Linked DNA regions of Homo sapiens: region 1 is linked to region 2. The links come from fine-mapping of genetic effects on gene expression. A gene starts in region 2. The other region holds a variant in brackets. All regions are shown on one strand. Distances are between the middles of the regions.

Region 1 (2,909 bases), 52 kb after region 2:
GACAGTGTTATAGGTTGCTTTTTTCTCTGTATTTTTGCCTCTGTTTCCTCATCTGTGATACAGAAATAATTATACAATGAACTAAAGTAAATTAAATTAGAAATTCAGTCTTCATTCTCACTAGCCAGATTTCAAGAGTTCAAAAGTAACGTGTACCTACTGTGTTGAACACAGCAGACCTAGAGTACTGCTCTCATTGCAGAATACTTTTGCTGGACCAATGGGCCTTAGGTTCAGAAGCATTTCTATTTCCCATCATTCCTGGCCTCCCATCTATTCCACACAGTAAGATGCTGCCATCCCTTGGCCCCTGTGACACCATGCTCCCTTAGTTTTCTTCCAGCCTCTTCAGGCCATTTCTTCTCAGTCTCCCTTAGGAACTCCTCCACCTCCACCTGCTCTTTAAAAGTTGAACATTCTCAGGACTCAGTCCTAGATCTCCTCTTTTTTTATTTTATACTTTCCTTTAGAAAGATTCTATGGATTCCAACACTTTCTATTTGGTTGGAATAGAATTCTATTTGGCAATTCTGAAATTTATATTTATATTTATATCATATCTTCTGATAGGTCTACTTTGCATCCGTGCACTGGCATCCATGCCAGTTTCATCCTCCTGGGAGAAAGGGGGTTCCTCAGACAGGAGCTAGAAAATGAAAGCTCCACTCTCATGATCAGAAGAGTGCTGTCTTTCTTTTGGCCTAGACATTGAGTCTGCATATCTAGGAGGTTATATATTGTAGCATAGGTTAAAGATAATGTCAGACCAAGAATTAGGAAATCTGAAAGTCAGGAAGATGTGACCGTCATCCTAGGTCCAGCACACACTTGAGAGTGAAATTATCTGGGGTCATTATCATGGCCATGTTTATATTCTTTATTTACATCCTAGTTTCTAGTAAAATTTTATTGAAAATTCTGAATTTACTTCAACTGTACGATGTAGAGCACATTAAGAGGGGAAACATTTGCCTAAATTTGGGCCATGATGTTAACCATAAAACTGTGTCCTCTAGCCCCATTTCCCCATTTCCTACTTCAGATCCCTGTGATGGTGACTGGTAATGTATGAGCTGTTCCATAGGTCTGTCTTGCTTGTTCAGACAATTTCCCCATCATGAAATTTTTCTTCCAGCATTAATATTTAAAGTTCATAGTTTTCATGTGATTGAAATACATATTCCCTTCAAGGTCCCTGCTGGGAGAAAGTATACTCGGGTCTAGAATGTTTCTCTAAGGTTTCAGGTCCAGTATATACATCTGCATCTACAGTGTAAGAATGATGAATAAGCTTCTAAGTTATCACATCCTAATTTGTGCTTCGAGCTGTACAGTGTGCAATAGTGCACCCTTCTGGAAAAATATTAGAAAAAAACTACATCCTC[G/C]ACTGCAGCCCATCCTGATTATTTATTTTGACTTGTGCTGAGAATTGCTCATTTCCTCTCTGCAGTCACTGGCATCTCCATGACTGTCTTGTGCCAATGTGTCCAGGAGAATAGCCTGGCACTGGCCAGGTGCTGAAAAAATACTCCTTGAGCTAAAGAACCCATGTTTGTATCATTAAGCAGTCTAAATGAGACAATGTAATCTCCCTAATAGGGTGGGAGGAAGAGGATTTCTGTTCTGCCAAAAGAAACATACAGGATTTTGGTATAGATGCTGGTGAATTTCAAACTGTCTGCCATTCAGATGTGTGTCCTATTTAGGAGATACTTAACCACACTACCCTTTCTCAGAAGACATGATAGGAAGGAAAGTTTTACCCTTTTAACAAAATGAACTAAAATGAAATGCTTTAGAGGTGAAAATTTGGCTCTTTCCAATTCTATTTTCTAAGACTATTATTTTTAAATTTTGTTTACATCTAAAGTCAATGTCAATATAGAGTTCTCAACCCTCTCCTTTGAAGTTTCAATAGGTTCCTTCGAGAGTAAAATGACAGCAACAGCAAAAACAGTAGGTCAAAAGAACATGTATCAATGGCTTTTGCCAGTTTAGTGTTGAAAGTACTAATATCTTGCTGTTTGCATCACTTCTTGATTTGCTGTCTGGCCCAACAATATGTTTGGAATGCAGGGCAGTCTGTTTGATATATATGGCGCTGGCCTCTGCTTCTGGGTCTGCGCTTTTGTTGCCAAGATATTGCTTTACTTGTTAAATAAAAGAAGACAAGATTAATTGGTTAATAGTAAAACTCTAGGCTGTATGATTAAATATTGTACAACAACAAACATTGTGTTTTTAAGAAGTGAGGAGATGCATAGTAAAAGCCAGGGTGAGTTTATTCCATAAGGGCATGGTTTGCCCTCTGCTGTTGCTGATTGCTCTCAGATTAATCAGGCTAAAACTGGTTGTTTAAATACATAAAATGCTTTGACAAGAAAAGTGATCCAGTTGGTACGTGCAGGCTTAACTGTTATCTCCACTCAGCCAAAGGTTTTGTTCTCTCTTGCACTCTGCATATATTTTGAAAGATTGGAAATGTAGGTTCTAATAATAACATGATGGAACCAAGCTCATGGTGGGAGCAGATGGTGAAATTTTAACAGATGACATGAGAGTGTAGAGTGATTCAACCTTTATTTTGCTGATAGATTTTCTATCAAAGAGGATTAACTTTACACACCAGAAAATAGGGTGTTCTTGATTAAGAAGAAGCTGAAAACGAAGGAACGAAAAAAATATGCAATATGCTTTTAATGAGTTTAAAGTCTCTTGGCTCAGTGTGGTTATATCCTTGTGAATGTAAACAACTTGAATTGAGGTCACAGAACCATGGAGTGTCCTCTTTAATTAATAAGCCAATACCTCACCACAATTACTATGTGACAGTCACGGTCTAAGCACTGGGTATTATTTGATCCTTACCTCAACCTTATGTGGTAATTTTGTCAGCCTCATTTTAGTGA
Region 2 (2,909 bases):
AGCTCTGTGAGGAAGCCTGGGCTATCTGCAAACCTTCGACTCGGAAATCCCTGCATAATAAGAAAGGTATTGGCTAAATTTGAGCAGCTCACGCAGTATCTAGAGGAAACATTATGAAGTGGGATAGTGTGGTGTCTGAGATGCAGTTATAGGTATACAGACATGACTCAAGGCGTGGATTAGGAAGGCCAACTTTGGAGGGGAGGGCTGGCTCGCTCATTTCTCTTCTCCCTGTCAAATGCTGAAAGGCTGGTTCCAGCCTTTGAGCTCCTGCACTTTGAGAGTTTTCAGCTGGGTTCTCAGGCTGCGTTCACCCGTCGACTTGCTCCAGGCCAAACCAGATTTTGAAAAGGAAGGCAACTTCTTTTTCGCGGCAAACCCTTAAACCCACGCACCTTCTCAAAACTCTGCCCTTCTCAACCCCTGCGCTAGAGTAGGCAGGGCAGAAGGTGCTGAGGAGAGGCTCAGAAGGGGCGGTGGGGACGATCCCCTTTCGAACTGCATTTGTAGCTGCCAAGGAGTAGCCAACAAGCACCAGATTTATGTGCACTTTGAAAGAAGCACCTTCACCATTGGCTTTTTAAGCGGCGCTGTCGCTAGGGAGCGGCTGGTAGGGCGAGCAGCCTCGGGGAGCAGCCCGGGCTGTTTGTTCCGTCACCGGGGAAAGGAGGTACACACAGTCGCGCGCGCACGGACACACACACACACGCACGCACGCACACACACCGGTGGCGAGTTCGAGCCCCGCGGCCCCTGTCCGCCCGCGTGCGCCCCTCGACACAGCTCGCCTCCCGCCCCCTGATTCCTGCTGCTGCCGCCCAGAGGAGAAAGGAACCTCTGCCTCGAATTTCCCCACTGCGCCGGGCGCTGCGGAGAGCGGCGAGGGTGGGCGCGAGGCGGAGAACGCGATGAATGAGTTCTCCCCTCGCCTCGGAGTTGTCTGAGTTGGCGGCGCTGCGCCCAGGCTTCCGGCTCTCAGCGCCCCACGCGCGCGTGGCTCCCCGGGCTGCCACCCACGCCCGCGGCCGGGGCCGAGCCAGCCACGCAGGGCAGCCGAGGCTCCGGAGCTCCTGTCCCGGCCCCAGTCCGGGTAAAAGGAGGGTTGTCCCCAGCGGAGGCGCACAGCCGCGCGTTCTCCCTGCACTCTCTTCGCGGTCCCATCTGTTCCCCATGGCGTCTCATCCGCAAACCCGGATCCAGGCTTACCTGGAGAAGAACAAGATCGGTCCCCTGTTTGAGGTAAGGCGCTGTGGAGGAGGGCAGTCCCGTTGTCTTTAGGGGAAGGGGTGCAGTAATGAAAACAGAACACTCCCAATCCCACCCCTCCCAGGGAAGGAGGGCTAGAGAACCAACGCGCGGGAGAGGGCGCCCTGGGATTCACTGGCATTCGCTCTGTCCCGGCCAGGTGTCCTGGAACGCGGCCGGGCGGGCACTTAGCCAGTTACCTGAACGCGGACAGGTGAGCTCGGGAGGGCCCAGCCTCAGCCTGGCAGGGGAAGTTTTGGCCCTCTGACTGTCCTGCACCTCTCAGCTACATGTTCAGGACCCGGGCAGGCTGAGGCAGGCGACGCATACGGATGCACACACTCAGACTGTGTTGCACACGCACACTTTCTTTTTTGAATTCACGCTATCTTGAGTGTTCGTGTTGGATTTTCTTTTTTCTTTTCTTTTCTTTCCTTCTTTTTTTTTTTTTTTTTTTTTTTTTTTTTAATGAGGGCGGTAATAGAACCCGAAAAGGTGGAGGAGGTGCTTAGCAGTTAATACAATTAACTGGAAGACAGCTGAACTGGTGAGGAGTAGGCTTCAGTCGGTGCGGGCGTGATGAATGAAATTGGCAAACTGAGAGACTGCCATTTGGTCACTGGACGAAAGGAGAGTCCTTTGCACTGCAGACCCCACATGTGTTAGCAGGAGAAAGGGACGGAGAAAGGTTCTGAAAAGCACACACGTATTTGTGGAAGAAGACTATAGCTCTGAGCTGGTTTTGTTTTTTTTTCTCTCTCTCGCCATTAAAGAATTTAAGACAAAAATACAGTAGAAGGAAGAGCGCGAGGACACGAGAAAATGAGAACAAGAGATTGAAGCCTGGCACCAGCAAAGCGTCCCGCGGGTTGCCAGGGTGCTGAGCAGGGGTGGGGCGTGCGGACCGTAGTCAGAAGTGGAGGCCCTTGCGGAGGGACTCCCTTGGTCCCATCCAGTTCAGGGGGCACTGACCGGCGGCGAGAGTTCGCGGGAGGGTCGAGGTGCTCCCGCCTTGCCCCCGCCTTGCCCCCGCCTTGCCCCCGCCCCCCACGTCTCCCAGAAGCAGTTGTAGCTGTTCTTAACAGCTTGGTTTGGGGTGAGGGCTTGGTATGGGGAGGAGGTTACGTGTCAGTGTCTGAGAGAGGCAGAATCGCGGCAAGTGGAAGGGGCTGCACTGGAGATCGCGGAAAACCTAGCAAAGACTGAAGAGAAGCAAGTGAGAACTGTGGAGAACAAAAAAATAATGCGAGTTAATGACCCTGCAAAAAAAGGGCGCGGAGGACAAAGGTGTGGTCCAATAGGTCTTTTGGGAGGACGGGTTTCACATAACAAGATTTGCAAGATCTCCTAAGTTTTTTTGCCCAACTTTAACGTTGATCTGTCTTAGACGATAAGACCATTGTTTCAATTGAAGCTCGCATTGTGGGGTGCAGAGTCCTACAATTGCTTTGATTCTTTTTTCTGCCAAAAATGTTAACAAAGGCAATCCATGCAAGAGCGAAATAAAATTGATGGAACTACCAGATTTCTTTTCTTTGCCTTTAGTTTAATGATTATTGATTATACATAATCCTATATAATTTTTTTAAAGGCAGAAGCCTAAAACCTTCTGCAACGCAGTGTATTAATTGCATCGAAAGAATCATAAAATACATACATTTAGA

Alleles and levels. Alleles are on the strand shown, and positions count from the first base shown. SD is a standard deviation of normalised expression in the study named.
In carriers of allele G in region 1, the expression in cerebellum of the gene that starts at base 1,391 in region 2 tends to be lower than with C alone (large effect, 0.81 SD a copy in GTEx).

Evidence for each region.
Region 1: its variant is fine-mapped to the expression of C8orf34-AS1 in cerebellum (GTEx, PIP above 0.99). The same link has a PIP of 0.9 or more in cerebellar hemisphere.

Annotation. Positions count from the first base shown.
Region 1 is chr8:68,382,321-68,385,229 of GRCh38, forward strand. All of the region lies in intron 1 of C8orf34 (chromosome 8 open reading frame 34), which reads left to right. Among named protein-coding and RNA genes, the nearest start is that of C8orf34-AS1, 52 kb to the left of the region's middle. The variant G/C (reference allele first, on the strand shown) is at 1,386.
Region 2 is chr8:68,330,101-68,333,009 of GRCh38, forward strand. It overlaps C8orf34-AS1 (C8orf34 antisense RNA 1), which reads right to left and starts at 1,391. Exons shown (of 3, transcript NR_038877.1): 1 at 1,207-1,391. C8orf34 (chromosome 8 open reading frame 34) reads left to right here and starts at 855. Exons shown (of 14, transcript NM_052958.4): 1 at 855-1,239. The coding sequence starts at 913.